4 separate regions of the Homo sapiens genome follow, and all the other regions are reported to be linked to region 4. The links are microRNA targets in miRTarBase. Many come from high-throughput screens and were not tested one by one. Region 4 holds a microRNA gene; each other region holds the end of a gene's coding sequence. Distances are between the middles of the regions.

The links. Region 4 holds the annotated microRNA hsa-miR-4433a-3p (ACAGGAGUGGGGGUGGGACAU, at 2,579-2,599, shown strand). A microRNA usually pairs through its seed, bases 2 to 8, with sites in the 3' UTR of a target mRNA and lowers its output. Matches are read on the target gene's strand: a 7mer-m8 pairs with bases 2 to 8, a 7mer-A1 pairs with bases 2 to 7 and ends in A, and an 8mer does both.
Region 1: miRTarBase lists PPP1R1C as a target of hsa-miR-4433a-3p. The part of its 3' UTR that is shown has no 7-base or 8-base seed match.
Region 2: miRTarBase lists SAV1 as a target of hsa-miR-4433a-3p. Seed matches in the 3' UTR shown: 7mer-m8 at 1,068-1,074.
Region 3: the mRNA of APOLD1 is a reported target of hsa-miR-4433a-3p. Seed matches in the 3' UTR shown: 7mer-m8 at 568-574, 7mer-A1 at 1,284-1,290, 7mer-m8 at 2,717-2,723, 7mer-A1 at 2,750-2,756 and 7mer-m8 at 2,853-2,859.

Annotation. Positions count from the first base shown.
Region 1 is chr2:182,117,038-182,121,037 of GRCh38, reverse strand. PPP1R1C (protein phosphatase 1 regulatory inhibitor subunit 1C) reads right to left here. Exons shown (of 5, transcript NM_001080545.3): 5 at 3,282-3,831. The coding sequence ends at 3,743. Among named protein-coding and RNA genes, the nearest start is that of PPP1R1C, 130 kb to the right of the region's middle.
Region 2 is chr14:50,631,700-50,635,699 of GRCh38, reverse strand. SAV1 (salvador family WW domain containing protein 1) reads left to right here. Exons shown (of 5, transcript NM_021818.4): 5 at 316-2,120. The coding sequence ends at 517. ATL1 (atlastin GTPase 1) reads right to left here. Exons shown (of 14, transcript NM_015915.5): 14 at 2,655-3,471. The coding sequence ends at 3,361. Among named protein-coding and RNA genes, the nearest start is that of SAV1, 35 kb to the left of the region's middle.
Region 3 is chr12:12,787,375-12,791,374 of GRCh38, forward strand. APOLD1 (apolipoprotein L domain containing 1) reads left to right here. Exons shown (of 2, transcript NM_030817.3): 2 at 1-4,000. The coding sequence ends at 278. Among named protein-coding and RNA genes, the nearest start is that of APOLD1, 3.7 kb to the left of the region's middle.
Region 4 is chr2:64,338,231-64,342,629 of GRCh38, forward strand. It overlaps MIR4433A (microRNA 4433a), which reads left to right and starts at 2,529; the gene lies at 2,529-2,609. It overlaps MIR4433B (microRNA 4433b), which reads right to left and starts at 2,618; the gene lies at 2,517-2,618. LOC105374768 (a long non-coding RNA gene) reads right to left here and starts at 3,479. Exons shown (of 3, transcript NR_189739.1): 1 at 3,305-3,479; 2 at 1-127.

The sequences.
Region 1 (4,000 bases), 120 Mb from region 4:
GTAAAGTGAAAAGCCATTATCTCAACTGGTTTCCTTCAAATTTCTGAGAAAGTCAACATATTTCTCAAAGAAAACTTAAGCTTTTAATTGAATTCTCTCTGTGTTTTGAGAGTGGAGAACAGAATGGAAGAAACCATTTCCCAAAGAAAACTTATGTTCTTAATTTTGATTTCTTTGTGTTTTTTTTTAGGAATGGAGAACAGAACAGAAAAATCCAGAAGCTATACTGTATATTACCCTAAATGATGTTACAAAATCAGCAAAAGCTTTGGTTTCTTTTTGTTTGCCTGAGTCCCTTTGAAAAAGCATTTTAAAAGCATCTGTTCAAGGAAAGGGAAGGGCAATGTTATGTTTAGCACCTCAGGGTGTCTCAAATACTCTCAAGGGGCATTGAGATGTTTTCCAAACACAAGTAATTCAAAATCACTTAAAATAAATAAGGGCCTTAATCAGGTTTTAAGTAGAGAGAAACTTGAGAAATAAACAAAGAGTCATAGCAGGTGGTATAGAAATTCCAGAAAGTTTTGGCTTAACAAAGAAAAAGTCAGGGGATCGGTGGTGATATCCCCTTTATCATTTTTTATTGCATCTATTTGATTCTTCTCTCTTTTCTTCTTTATTAGTCTTGCTAGCGATCTATCAATTTTGTTGATCTTTTCAAAAAACCAGCTCCTGGATTCAATGATTTTTTGAAGGGTTTTTTGTGTCTCTACTTCCTTCAGCTACAAGGCTACAGTAACCAAAACAGCATGGTACTGGTGCCAAAACAGATATAGACCAATGGAACAAAACAGAGCCCTCAGAAATAATGCCGCATATCTACAACCATCTGATCTTTGACAAACCTGGCAAAAACAAGAAATGGGGAAAGGATTCCTTATTTAATAAATGGTGCTGGGAAAACTGGCTAGCCATATGTAGAAAGCTGAAACTGGATCCCTTCCTTACACCTTATACAAAAATTAATTCGAGATGGATTAAAGACTTAAATGTTAGACCTAAAACCATAAAAACCCTAGAAGAAAACCTAGGCAATACCATTCAGGACATAGGCATGGGCAAGGACTTCATGCCTAAAACACCAAAAGCAATGGCAACAAAAGCCAAAACTGACAAATGGGATCTAATTAAACTAAAGACCTTCTGCACAGCGAAAGAAACTACCATCAGAGTGAACAGGCAACCTACAAAATGGGAGAACATTTTTGCAATCTACTCATCTGACAAAGGGCTAATATCCAGAATCTATAGTGAACTCCAAAAAACTTACAAGAAAAAAACAAACAACCCCATCAAAAAGTGGCTGAAGGATATGAACAGACACTTCTCAAAAGAAGACATTTATGCAGCCAACAGACACATGAAAAAATGCTCATCATCACTGGCCATCAGAGAAATGCAAATCAAAACCACAATGAGATACCATCTCACACCAGTTGGAATGGTGATCATTAAAAAGTCAGGAAACAACAGGTGCTGGAGAGGATGTGGAGAAATAGGAACACTTTTACACTGTTGTTGGGACTGTAAACTAGTTCAACCATTGTGGAAGTCAGTGTGGTGATTCCTCAGGGATCTAGAAGTAGAAATACCATTTGACCCAGCCATCCCATTACTGGGTATATACCCAAAGGATTATAAATCATGCTGCTATAAAGACACACGCACACGTATGTTTATTGCGGCACTATTCACAATAGCAAAGACTTGGAACCAACCCAAATGTCCAACAATGATAGACTGGATTAAGAAAATGTGGCACATATACACCATGGAATACTATGCAGCCATAAAAAATGATGAGTTCATGTCCTTTGTAGGGACATGGATAAAGCTGGAAACCATCATTCTCAGCAAACTATTGCAAGGACAAAAAAACCAAACACCACATGTTCCCACTCATAGGTGGGAATTGAACAGTGAGAACACACGGACACAGGAAGGGGAACATCACACACCGGGGCCTGCTGTGGGGTGGGTGGTGGGGGGAGGGATAGCATTAGGAGATATACCTAATGTTAAATGACGAGTTAATGCATGCAGCACACCAACACGGCACATGTATACATATGTAACAAACCTGCATGTTGTGCACATGTACCCTAAAGCTTAAAGTATAATTTAAAAAAAAAAGAAAAAGTCATGGGAGGGGTGGAGAAAGACAGAGAAGGAGAGGGAGAAGGGGAGAGAGGGAGAGAGAAAAGGAAGAAAGAAAGGAAGAGAAGGAGGGAGGGAGAAAGACAGAAGAAAGGAACAGAAGGAGAGAGAGAGGAATCTAGAATAGTCATTTATACATGTGGTATGCTTATCAACGGGTTTCACACTTATTTTCTTGGGGAAAAATACTAAGGAAAATGGTTGTCAACTCACTGCATTCTTTATAGCTCCATAAAACTCTCTTAACTTCTACATTACAAAACTCATATTCAAAATTAAAAGCAATCATTTTACATATTTGAATCTTGATATTAAGATCCCACAGTGGATTACACATTTGATTTTTTCTTCCTGCCTTCATTTGTCCTTTACTGACTTTTGAGAAATCTTTTTATTTTTTATCCATGATACATTTGAATTTCATTAATATTATTAATAAAGGACCAAACTGAGTATTCTTCCATTCCCCCTAAATTTTGTAGTTTAGATACTTTGCCTTCACAAATAATGTATAATTAAAATTGTTCAAAATGCCCAGAATTTTAAATTATGAAAAAGCCATATTCAATAAATATACACTGTCATATAAAATCTTGCTTTATGCTAATGCTTTATCTTTTCTGCCAGTTCTATAGGGGTAAAAGTATCTTTCTTTTATTTCTATAATTCGCAGCATAGTACCTTCCTAGGGATAAGCTCATAAAAGATATTTGTTTAATTAATGAATAAATGACTATATGAATGAATTAATGGAATTTCTTATTTTATGATATGGAAGATTTATAAACTGCTATATTATTTATCAAAATGCAATAGGAAATAGATGGCCCAAATTTCAAGTAATAGCTAAAAGAGGAGGTAGGAAGATTTGGCATAGATTTTTGGATTTATCATTCTTCTTTCTTAATAACTAGAGAAAATGCTGGGAAATATATATCTTGCAGCTTAGAAAATGAAGAGAATTCTGTAGTTGTATAATCAACCATTAATGTGTTGTTGGTGGGAAAAAGATGTTTAGTATCTAATATTGTGGTGTATTGAATCAAGAAAACTGGCATTTCTTCATCATTTAAAAATGAACATTGTGTTCTGTTCTGAATACAGAAATATGATCAATGCAAATCTCAAGCTAAAAGCTTTATTAGATATTTCTCTTTAAGCTAAACCCACACACACACACACACACACTCATGTCTAAATGTGTTTACTATTTATTTTTTACTCTTAAAGTGATGTTATTTACATGTGTTGTTAGAATGCAAACCTTATCAGTAGGACATCAAGGATTAAGCTCTGGCAGTATTAAAGTTAGAACAGTCACATGTATGCAAATTTTTACATAGTTAAAAAGAAGAATCACTGTAAAATAAATGCTTATTCTTTAATTATAAGTGATGTGGAACAATGTGTACTTAGTTCTAAAGTTCAGTCAAGGAGACTTCCAGGATGTGCATAGCTACTGTATGAGTGTGGGGTGCAGAGATGGAGGATGCTTCTGGAAGTCAAGCAGTGGAATTCCATGGTATACTCAGAAAAGTTAATAGTTCAGTTATTTCCAAGAAGCCTTCTTGCTGCAGACCAGTAATTAATGGTCCCGCTGCTCCTCTCTTTCATTGGTGCCTTCTTCTTCTTCAGGGAATGCTGATTCATTCTGGCCTTTCAGATGCTTAACCCCTGAAATTATAAAAATTATGCAAAATTTAAATGATTTTCATTTCTGGAATATTAACCGCTTTGCTGCAAAAGATAAAGAAAAGAGTGCAAAGTTTTCATTTGGTGTTTATATGTTTTTCTCCAAGAATCTTAACAATGTAATCCTATATAAACCTTTTAATTCACTGAG
Region 2 (4,000 bases), not on the chromosome of region 4:
TAAATAGCAGTTAATAACTCAGATTTTTAAAAAACTGATTTATTTATTTTTAGAAACAGGGTCTTGCTATGTTGCCCAGGCTGGCCTCAAACTCTTGGGCACAAGCAGTCCTCCCACCTCAGCCTCCCACCTCAGCCTCCCAAGTAGCTGGGACTATAATAGGCGCCACCACTGTGCCCAGTTATTTTTAATTAAAACTTATGGTTTGTTTAGTTATAAATAAAGTTGACATTTTAAAAAACAGACTAGTTTCTTGCTAGAAATACATGTTTATGTATGTGTTGTGAACATATATATGATTGTGTTTTAAAACAGATATGACCACATTCTGAAGTGGGAACTCTTCCAGCTGGCTGACCTGGATACATACCAGGGAATGCTAAAGTTGCTCTTCATGAAAGAATTGGAGCAGATTGTTAAAATGTATGAAGCATACAGACAAGCCCTTCTTACAGAGTTGGAAAACCGAAAGCAGAGACAGCAGTGGTATGCCCAACAACATGGAAAAAATTTTTGAGCTGATTTTTTAAAAATTTAAGTTTTGTAAGAGCTTTAAAATATTTTCACAGATAAAAAATTGCAAACAAGTACTCTGGTTAATAAATGCTGCTTCCTTTGTGGAAATTATAAAATTCTAACTTTACATGTATTTTGTTATTAGAAATTTTCTTTTATTGAATGAGAAAAATTAGTCTATCATTTTAAGAGCCAATATGGCAAACACTTTCAAATACTGTATATTAGGAAACTGTTTTGGTATTCTTGATGGAAAAAAACGCAGCGGAAATGTCATTATGAACAGATGTTAAATAGGAAATTATTACTTGTTAACTTCTTACAGCAGTAGTACCTTCTTTAAAAAAAAAAAAGAATCTGCGGTATTTTTTTAAAAAAAAAGTTTACCGCTGTAGTGTGAAATATTGTCTGGAAAGGGATGGTTTAAATATTACCATGATGTAGTTGAAATATAAAATAGGATTTGGAACCTTATTGTGATAAATATTTATATATGATGTATGTTTGTCTCCCCTCTCCAAAGTAAGGAACCCAGCTGGGCGTGGTGGCTCACTCCTGTAATCCCAGCATTTTGGGAGGCCGAGGTGGGTGGACCGCTTGAGTCCACGAGTTTAAGACCAGCCTGGGCAACATGGTGAAGCCCCATCTCTACAAAAAATACAAAAAAATTAGCCGGGTATGATGGTGTGTGCCTCTAGTCCCAGCTACTTGGGAGGCTGAGGTCAGAGGATGGCTTGAGCCCAAGAGGCAGAGGTTGCAGGGTCAAGATCGCACCACTTGCACTGCAGCCTGAGAGAGAGAGAGCCAGACCTTGTCTCAAAAAATAAAAAATAAAAAAATAAAAACAAAATAAGGAATCCTTTTAAAGCATGTTGAGAAAGTATTTTTTGGTATGAATGGGTGACGGGCCTTTTAATCTTTCAGGAATACATATAAGCAGGAATACTTAGCCTGTATTGGGAAGGTGCGTGAAACTCAAAGTTGCTAACATCATCTTCCTTATTTTCAGCCAGTGCTGTTACTGCATTTAGCATGGCTCTGACGAGGCAGTGGAGAGTTCCTGACAGCATAGCATACTGCCTTCTGACAGACTGGGTTAAGCTACCAAAAATGACAACCAGGGATTCAAAAAAAATTTTTGGTCATTAAATCGAATGTATATTATTACTTTTTAATTTTCTAAGTATTTATCACAGGACTTTAACACCATATATTTCCCTCCCAGTTTTTCTCCCCTTTTGGTTTAATAGTTAAAACATTTTTCATAATTAGTGCTGTACATTTGATTGCAAACAAATTGGTGATACTTCTAAACTATAACTATAAATCTCTAGAATTCTGTGAATTTCAACATTATTTGAAGTAGTTCTTCAGTTATATTTACATGTGTTGTAAATATGTAAATATACTTTTAGCTTAGGAAGTCTTCCAGAATACAAACTACTCCCAGTTAGATATCAGTGAGTTTGAATAACTGAAGAAATGTTGACAATGTTAAGTGTTTGATTTTATATAACAAGCTTATTAAATATATTTTTGTGGAAACTAAGCGCGTGGTTTTTGAGTCCATGTTTTAGACATAGTGCTGTATTTCATTTTTCTGTTCAAAAGGCCATAGACAAAGGAATCAATATAATTGAAAGGGGTAATGAAAAGGGGTATTGAAAAATGAAAGTGTGGCTAGTGGAATTTTATCACTGGGAAAAGATAATTTGCTGAACTTGTGATCAGACTTTTCTAAGATGTCAGTATATATATCTTATGAACTCCCACACTCCTCTATCTTAATTGTTCTTTCCTGTCACTTCTTACTTTATATCGCTACTTAATTATGGTGTAGCCATTTCTGTGACAGTCTTTAGAAGTTTCTCTGTTTTGGACCTCCTAGATAAGTATTACTTTTTTCATTAACACACTTTCCTTCTTCCTCTAAGAAGTCTGTTCAGTGAAACTCCACTAGAGATTTTAGTCATTAAGAACTAGAAGTTACCTAAAGGAATTAGCATGTTTTGTAAAATAGAAACTTAAGTTTGTACTGATGTCAACATTAAATAAAATGCATCTTGAGTCTAAAAAAAGAGATAAACCTTCATCATTCTATATCAGCACCTCTCATTTTCAAATTCAGTAAGCATTTGTTTTTAATCTTAGGAACCAGAGTAAACTTTAATAATAGTTCACATATTAAAAGAATAAACCTATGAAGAATACATTCTTTGTGTACCAAATGAAAAAATATACAATGCAGTGAAACTCACATATACAAAGTGATTTTTTGTGCATTTTTTATCAAGAGGTTTATATTCTATTAAACCATGTAAAAGCAATATCTGGTTTTTGATAAAGCAACTAAGGAACTCTAAAATGTGCTTAAAAATAAGATTGTGATATATATAAGATGATACAGATTAAATCCAGCCTGCTGAGTTATGATGCTGTGTTTTAACAAATGGCTAATGTGAAATAATTTAAAATTTTTTCTGTAGAAATTAAATGAGCATATCCAAACGTGGAATATCACATGATTTAATTATAACCCAGTAGTAGAATTTAGTAAATTCAAGCAGAACACGTGTACTGTTATCATAAATAGACAAATACTTTATAACAGCATTTTTGAAGAAAAATCAGGAAATTGTACATGTTAACAAAATAGTATAACCATGCATACATACATCTGCTTATTAAACACTGAAGTAAAAGAACTAATCCAGTTTGCAGTCTTCAGAGGTGTTTAGTATTTTACTCCGTTCTGATGGAAGCACTTTGAATGTTTGCATGGAGACATAAAACTGAATATTTAATTGACAATTGGTCATGCACCTGTATTTCTTAAAATTTGCATTACATTTTTTTCTTTTCTGATTGTTCAGTAGATTCCGACTTTGGTGTAGGGAAAGCTTGATGATACAGATGTCTGTGGGTTGCTGCTGCACTGTAAAGCTTGTACAAAGCCTAGAATAAAAGCATCAAAATTATAAAACATTTTATTAAACACACAGATGTAAAATTTTTTCCTTTTTAGTTTATCGTACTGTATAAAATTTAGCATGTTGAATTTGAAATCTTTTTTAATCGATATATAAATTATTATCTTAAAATTCAAAAGTATTTTCAACTCCTCAATGTGTGCATTAACACTTTTGTGTGTTGACCTGTGTGGTGAATGTTTTATTCTCAAACTGTGTTTCCTTTTACCTTGCATACCTCTTGGAGCAGTGAGCTTCTACTTTGCCCCAGGGGTGTGCTGAAAATTCAAATTGTGAATATTAGCAGTTTTAGATGAATTGTAAGACCTCATAACTTCTGATTGGCAGTAACTATTATGCATAGCTAGGCTACTTGCTTTCTGGGCTTCCAGTGTTTTCCTGAGTGGGGCCAATTTTATTCTCCATCATTTACTGATACAGTCATGCAGCTAAGCACATATGGTGTCCTTCCCCCAGCACAGTAGGATCCTTCACTTTACACGCTCTTGCCTTGT
Region 3 (4,000 bases), not on the chromosome of region 4:
GGAACGCCTCCATCGCCCTGTACAATTCTGTCTACTTCATCGTCTTCTTTGGCTCACGTGGCTTCCTCATCCCCAGGCGGGCGGAGGGGGACACCAAGGTTAGCCAGGCCGTGCTGAAGGCCAAGATTCAGAAACTGGCCGAGAGCCTGGAGTCCTGCACCGGGGCTCTGGACGAACTCAGCGAGCAGCTGGAGTCTCGGGTTCAGCTCTGCACCAAGTCCAGTCGTGGCCACGACCTCAAGATCTCTGCTGACCAGCGTGCAGGGCTGTTTTTCTGAGAACATCCTTTCCCCCTAATGACCGAGGCCAGCAAATCATCCTCATGGGATGCTCCAGAATTTGTAGCTCCCTTAGGAAAACACCAAGCTGGGTTAGGAGCCGAAGGCAAAGGATGAGAAAAACTGTTTTTGAAGTGGGCAGGTCCCCAAAGCCCTTCTTTTCCCATCACTGTGACATCTGCCTGGGCTTGAGTGCTACGGACTTTTCAGTCTTCCTAGTGGAAAAATGTGACCCAAAAACTCTTTTTCCTTTATCAAAAACTTTCTGTCTAAACACAGCTGGGCAGGCACTCCTGTTTTAAAGTTATTTCGGGGTCCCTGACCCTGCCCTGGTGGCTTGGCCTGAGACTGGAGAGAGTGCCATCCTCTGGGTCCTCTCCAAGTCCTACTAGTCTTTGAAGTCCTCAAAATGTGCGTGAGGAAGGCGTTTGCCTCTATTCCAGAATTTCTGATACAAAGAACTCCAGAATCCAGAGCAAATCAGCCCTTCTCTGAACGTTGTAGGATGGTTCAGAACCCAGAGAGGACCCTGGTGCTGATATCTCCTCCTCTTCCCTTTCCCCTCAGCTTACTTACTCCCAGATGCGGCCTGGGTATGAAGTAGGCCTTTCCTGAGTGGCTCCCAATCCAGTCCTCCAAGTACTCAGAGGGGAAGCCCGTGAAGCCGTCATCTAAGTCCTGCTCCCTCACATGAAGCTGAGGGCCAGATAGATGGAGCGACTGCCAACTTCATTTCCCGACATCATTGTGTTCAGAAGAGAGTGATGGGTTTTGAGTTAGACAGTCCTGGGCTTGAGACAGGCTTTGTCACTACTGTGTGAGTGTAGCCACCTAATCTCTCTGAGACTGTGTAAAACAAAGATGATAAAATCTCACCCTGTTGTGAGATATTAAATGAGCCAAAGTGCCTAGCATGATGGTGCTGGCTCATATAGTGTAGTCCCTGGAATGGCAAATTAACATCACCCAGGAACTTGTTAGAAAGGCAAATTCTTGGACACAACCCTCCTGATTTATGGAATCAGAAACTCTGGCTGTGGGGCCCAGCAACCTGAGTTTAAACAATTTCTCTGGGTGGTTCTGCGGCACACTAAGGTTTGAAAATCACTGCAACAAATGCTAACTTCTAATCCCCTTGATGAGCTTTCACGAAGTCTCACGGCTTCTCTAGGGACTCCATGGTCTTCAGAGTCGTTCACAGATGACCAAGGACAGACTGTGTCCCAGAAGCCAAAATGAGAGAGAGAGAGAGAGAGCACGCGTACGTGCACCCTGGGGCAGTGTCTCACCGTATGAACAAGGGATGTAACACTAAAAGCCCATTAGGGGGCAGTGTTTCCCGCCTGTTGTAGAAACTGGTACAGAAAGGAATATGAAGTTCCTGAAACTGACCTTTGTCTATTATTACCTTCTCTGAAAAGTGCCAGTCCATGTATTTTTTATTTATTTTAAGTTTGTAATTTAATTTTTAATTATTGTTTAGTGTTTGCATTTAATTTTATTTAATCACCACATTTAGAAAATAATAAGAGCAAGTTTCTAAATGGGAGACTGCTGAGGCTCTTTGCAAGAGATGAGATTAAGTTTGAGTTTCTAAGGCAGGGCATGAGCTGGAAATAGCATTGCTTTCCTTGATTGTCTCTCTCCTTCAGGGAGATTCTTTTTCTCTAGTGTTTTAAGTGATCCTTTGAAGTAAGTGTGGAGAGTCTTGAATGGCAAGACCAGGAGCTGAGTTTAAGCTTGTAATGGAAGCTTGCATTGTGGGATATATAACTGAGGAAGCATATTTATCCTGAAGGTATTTTGCCAGAAGGTATCACTTGACCTGGAAAAGGAATCTATTTAGTTCAGGAAAGATAAAAAGTTTAGAGGTATGTGAAGGAAGCACTTAGAACTTGCAAGCCTGATGTCCTATCAAGTTATGTCTTCTGGGTGACAGACAAAATCGCTTGTCTTATGGTGGTGATGTGTTGCATTTTCACTTTGGGGTCTGTAAGAAACTGTCAGTGAAAATATGTACAATTCCTTCAATTTCCATTCTTAACAACTGTAATGTTGAAAAATAAGTTGAAAAGTCTTTGGGACCATACATGCAAAAACGGTGCCTCTGTTACTTAATTATTTAATATTCTATAAATGTACCCAATCTGTCCGCACCCTTCCCAGTGATGGGGCAGTATGTCTGAGGAAGTATAATTTCAGTACTGGGGTCGGGGAGAGGAGGTGATGTTTCTACATTTTTATTTTTTCTATAAATTGCAATTGGTCTGTATGCTGGTTTATTTTGAAATTTATATTGGTTTCTTTTCAAGCTGGTGTCATCTCCTAGACTGTTTCACCCAGATGCTAGCATTTTTTTTTTTTTTTTGAGACAGAGTCTCACTCTGTCACCTAGGCTGGAGTTGCAGTGGTTTGATCTCGGCTCACTGCAACCTCCGACTCCTGGGTTCAAGCAATTCTTCTGCCTCAGCCTCCTGAGTAGCTGGGATTACAGATGTGCACCAGCACACCCGGCTAATTTTTTGTATTTTTAGTAGAGACAGGGTTTCGCCATGTTGGCCAGGCTGGTCTTGAACTCCTGGCCTTATGTGATCCGCCCACCTTGGCTTCCCAAAGTGCTGGGATTACAGGCATGAGCCACCTCGCCTGGCCAGATGCTAGCATTTTAGATCAAACAATTCATTTTAGATGAATTGTTTTGTTTCACAATCATTTTAAATCATTTTAGAATGTACTTCACATTATTAGTTGTGTTATGGCATAAAGGTACAACCATTCCCTAACTCCATCTTTTATTAATGCTTAAGTTTAAATTATATTCTTCCAATGCCTAAGCTATTCCCTAGAATTAAACTGGGCACTTTTGGAAGCAGCAACAGTAACAGCAGCAGCAAACTTTTCCTCTCATATTTTGGGTGTATCAAAAGTTCTAGACTTTTGAAGTTATGATTTCAGTGGCCCACTTTATTTCTAAGGAAGAGTGTCTACTTTGGAACGATACTTTGCACATAGTAGGAACTCAAGAAATACATTTGAATAATTATAATTAACTGTTTAGCTATCTTAATGAGAATTTGTTGACAACAAAAGATCATCCATCGCCTTATGTGTGAGTAAGATTGGAGCCTCTATCAAGATTTAGTCAAGTTCAGTTAGATTGATTCTAGAAACAAATATTTATTTCTTTCTTTTACGGGGATGTGAATAAGGCTTTTCCTTAAGGCCTTCATTCTTTAAACAAACAGGTTGAAATGGTATGTTGTAAAAGAGAAGACGGGAGAGAGGTATTTAGATGATAAGTGTACTTCACAAAAATGCCAAAGTTTGAAAAATAGGTATGTTTGTTCTAAATGTTTAAGTGCTTCTCTGTTAGGTTCTGGGGCTTGCAATCATTTGAATTGTTCTGTTTCACAATAAAGGAGATTCACTGGGTTCTGCATTTTCAGGATTCAATAGAACTGCTCCATTAAAAAAATAATCCTTAGCAAGCATTCGAATCCTAACTGCTTTGATGCACTTGCCCTCGGGCACCTGTCATTTCCAATATGGTAGGTGTCAAAGTCAAAAGTATTTACTGGGAGAAAAAAGAGAGGAGTGGTTGTAGAAGTCTCCCTAAATCAGACATGTCAAGCAATCAGCCAACGTGGTGTATTTCTCATTCAATATTTTAGTGTGAATTGAGACACTGAGATAAAGACATCGTGCAGAGATAAATGGGGATA
Region 4 (4,399 bases):
GGGATTGTTTTTCCAGGGCTCCTTGCAAGGAACTAGGAGAACTCTGGCAGGAGCACCCTCCGGGAGCAGCAGGGCCTCCTCAGGTGGGTTGTTTGTGGTCAGACAGGTCCTCCCAGTTCCCTCCACACTGAGAGCATTGGAGAGAAAAGAGCAAAATGAAGTGATTACCCTGAGGTACAGGCCATACTGAACACTGTCTGTGAAACAATGGTGGGGTTTGGGGTCCTCTTTGGCACTGACTTAATTTTTTCCTAAGCCCATGGGCTTAGGGGCCAGAAAAGCACCAGGTACTGCGTTAGCAGTGTCCCTCAGGCCAGATGCAGTGGCTCGTGCCTGTAATCCCAGCACTTTGGGAGGCTGAGGGTGGAGGACCCCTTGAGCCTAGGAGTTCGAGACCAGCCTAGGCAACATAGCTAGACCCTGTCCCATTTATATTAAAAAATAAATTTTTAAAAAAGAAGTGTCCCTGAAAGAGTTAACACCAAAAGTATTTGCTAAAGATCTTAAATGAAGTAATTTTTTTTCAGTTACTTGCATAGGAGTAAATAATAGTAATAAGTAACACCTGCTGAGCCCTTAAATGCAGGCATGGTGCGCTACCTGCTTTACATTGAGTTATGTGACCCACCTGCATGTTTCCTCTCTCAGACCAGGTCATCATCTGGTGATGGGGTGGGGGTACAGTTGCTATACCCTCATTATGAATTTCTTTATTAACCTTAGTCCTGTTTACCTCTAACCTAGAGGCTTCTGAGCAAGCGCCCTCCTGTCTGCCATGCTCTCCTCTGGGCAGGTTTAGCTGAGAGCTGGAAGCAGAGATGAGTCAGACATGAGTACAGTCTTGGTCTTTAGGGGCTTTTATCCCACAGCTGATTGTGGCTAGAGGGGGTGGGGCTGTTTTTAGCCCAGCTTGCAGCCTTACCCCCTGCTGCTTGCAGCACCATCAGAAGCATACCTGCTCCAAGAGAGAAAACAGACTTTGACCACAAAAGGACACATGCTTCTCTTTTGCATGTCCTCGGATGCCTACTTGGGATCGCATGGGTGCTGAGAAGATGCTGTTGATGGTTTGCCCTGGTTGTAGCTGCATTTCTAGGGGTGTGGCCTAAGCCAGGCAGTCGGGGTGAATAGGGCTTCTCCTTTCAGAGGTTCTTCCAAGAAGGGAAAATCGTGTGCCCATTGATTTTGTTTCCACCACAATCTTTGTCCAGGCCATCCATCACCTTTCCCCCTGAATCTACAACCCCTTCAGGGGTGTCTCTGTTCCCACCCTTCTCCTGTCCTATACAGTCTGCACTTGATGGCCCAGAGCAGCCTTCCTCTGACTGTTCTCATCAAGTGGCTATAACCACAGTGCTCACCCAAGGCACACTGGGGGAAATTCAAGCTTCTCCTGCCCTTTTCCTAAAATACTCATGACCACCAAACACTATTTATTCCAGTATATCTTGTGGAAGGGGGTGTTGCTGAGTATTAAGCAAAAAACTTTATTTTTGTATATTCAAACTTATGGAATAAGTTCAGGAAATACTGAGTTAAAAGGGTTAAAGTGTTGGTTTTTCAACTGCAGGACTTCTCAGACTCTTTGAGATGCTGATGTACACAAGGGGTATGGGCTGCATGTTTCTACATGCTGATTTGATATAGAACCCTAGATAGAGCATCTCGCAAGACCAGTGGTCCCTGGAACCCAGCTTAGAAAACACTGCCCCAAAGAAGTCTCCTGAGAAAAATGTATTGCTGTTGATCTTTCAGCCTTCGTCACTGCTATCCTTCCCCTAAAGGGCTTGCCTTCAGCCTCTCTACCCATCCTGGTTCCCCCAGTGCTTTGGAACCAGGACAGACACACTCTGCTCCTAATAAGCATTTCATAGTCAGCCCCAGCCCAGAGCTCTCCTTATCATTCATTCATTCATCAAATATTTTTTGAGCATTTACTTTCTTCCAGGAGCTGTGCTAAGAGATATAGTAGCAACCAAGGAACATTCCAGTAGGAAACAGACAGGTAAGTAGATGGGTTTAGTATAGTGTGAGAAGTACAATACAAACACACCCAAGGATAGATCCAGATTGAGTCTTGGACAGTCGGAAAGACTTCCAGGGGAAAAAAAATGGCATCTTTTCTTCATTTCCACACTTAGCAATTTTTCTATATTGGTTTGTCATTTATTCATTTAATCACCAATCATTTATTGTGGGCTGGGCACTGTGCAGAGATAGTAATCAGACTTGACTTGAGGACGATAAGAAATCACTGAAGGGATTTTAAGCAGAGAAAGGACATGATCTATTTACACTGGTAGATGTCACTTTGATTGTAGGAAAAGTGGACCGGCCAGGGCAAGGCTTGAGGCAGGAAGCCAGCTAGGAGACCACTGCATGAACCCACATAAAAATGAGGACCTGGGCTAGGGAAGTAGCAGGAAAAGTGGATTTTGACAGATATCTAGGACAGAGCCAACAGGACTTGGACAGCAATGGGATGTGGGGGAGTAAGAGGGAATAGTTTAGGATGATGTTCTTTCCCCCATCCTCCTTACGTCCCACCCCCCACTCCTGTTTCTGGTGAAATATTCAAACAGGAGTGGGGGTGGGACATAAGGAGGATAGGGAACACAGGATGAAGGGCAGGTTACAGGGGTCCACGTGCGAGGGGAAGATAATGTGTTCAGTTTTAGACATGCTGAGCTCATGATTCCAATTCCTTTGGACATTCCAGTGGAGATATCTGGCAGGCTGATTTTTCTCACGAGAGAAATCATGTCTGGAAATACAGATCTGAGAAGCAGCAGCAACATATGGGTGGCCACCAAAGCCGTGGACTCAGTCAGCACCATTAAGCCAGAGTGATGGGTGAGATGGGTGACAAGGGCCCCCCTTGCAGCAGGTGGGTGACAAAAGAAGAATCAGTGTTGCAGCATGGGAAGGACTGCCCAGAGAGAAAGGAAGTGAACCAGGAGAGGATCTAGAAAAAGGACACTGGGCAATGAGAGCTTGGAGCGGGCCTCTGCACCAGGGGAGGGGTGGCTTTGACTGGCAGATACACATGTCTAGTACACGTGGAGGGTATGAAAACTCCAGGGAAAGAGAGGGGCAGCAGGAGCTCCCTCTTTTTGTAAAACAGGCTTTCTCTTAGGCGTAGCCTTCTAACTGATCTGCCCCACTATCCTCAACCCACTCTCCACTTCATAGCCAGATAGGTCTTTTCAAAACACATCTCTGATCACATCACCGCCTCTCCCCCAGCTCTATTAAAAACCTTTGGATATTTCTATGGCTCTTAGCATGCAGACCAAACTCCTACCTGGCCTGGCCTCTACTTCCTTCTCCAGGTGCACCTTCTGCCAGACTCTCTTGCTCTCTCCCCTGCAGCCAGCTGGCTTCCATTCGGCCTCGCAGACTCGTTGCATGGGTGTTACATTGTTGCTGTCAGAGCCATGTCCACCCTTCCCATCCCGTGGTCCCCCGATCTGCTCTGTGTCACTGGGGGCTGTTCCAGGCTCCAGAGCCAACTGCCTTCCAGTAAAGTTCAGCCAATGGGGAGTGAGGGAGGGCAAAAGATATTGGAGGTGAAGGAAGGAGAAGCCAGAGTACTTCTCCTGCTTCTCTTTCTCAGGAGTCTCTTCTGTGGCTGCAGTTCCCACTACACAGCCATCTCTGTGTGATCCCTGCTACCCATCTTGGCAGGCCCTCTTTGTTCCAGCTTATCTTGTCTTAGGCTCCAGAAACTGTTTCTTTCCTTGTTCTCCAGCTTCCAGGGTGGTGCTATGGGTTGAATTGTGTCTCCCCTGCAAGTTCATGTGTTGAAGTTCTAACCCCCAGTACTTTAGAGTGTGACCTTATTTAGGGTTGTGGTCTTTATAGAGTAGCCGAATTAAAGTGAGGTCATTAGGGTGGACCCTAATCCAATATGAATGTTGTCCTTATAAAAAGGGGAAGTTTGGACAGAGATAGACACACACAGAGGGAAGACGATGTGAAGAGACATAGGTGAAAATGGTCATCTACAAGTCAAGGAAAGAGGCGTGGAACAGATCCTTCCCTCATAGGCCTCAAAAGGAACTACCCCTTCTGACACCTTGATTTTGGACTTCCAGCCTTCAGAACTCTGAGACAATAACTTTCTGTGTGAAGCCACCCAGTCTGTGGCACTTTGTTACTGCAGCCCTAGCAAACAAATACAGTAGTCCCAGCTTCCTGGAGTTGCTACTCTCAGGGTTCCCCTGGGAGCTCTTTCAACTCCTCTGACTCCCCGTATGAAATTCCCTCTATCAAATCACCTAGAGTGGGTTTTGCTTTCCTGGCTGGGTCCTGACTAATATGCCTGCCATGATCCTTTCTGCCACAGAGGACATAGTGCTTCCTCTGCCTGGTATTTTTCCCCCTCTCATCTTTACCT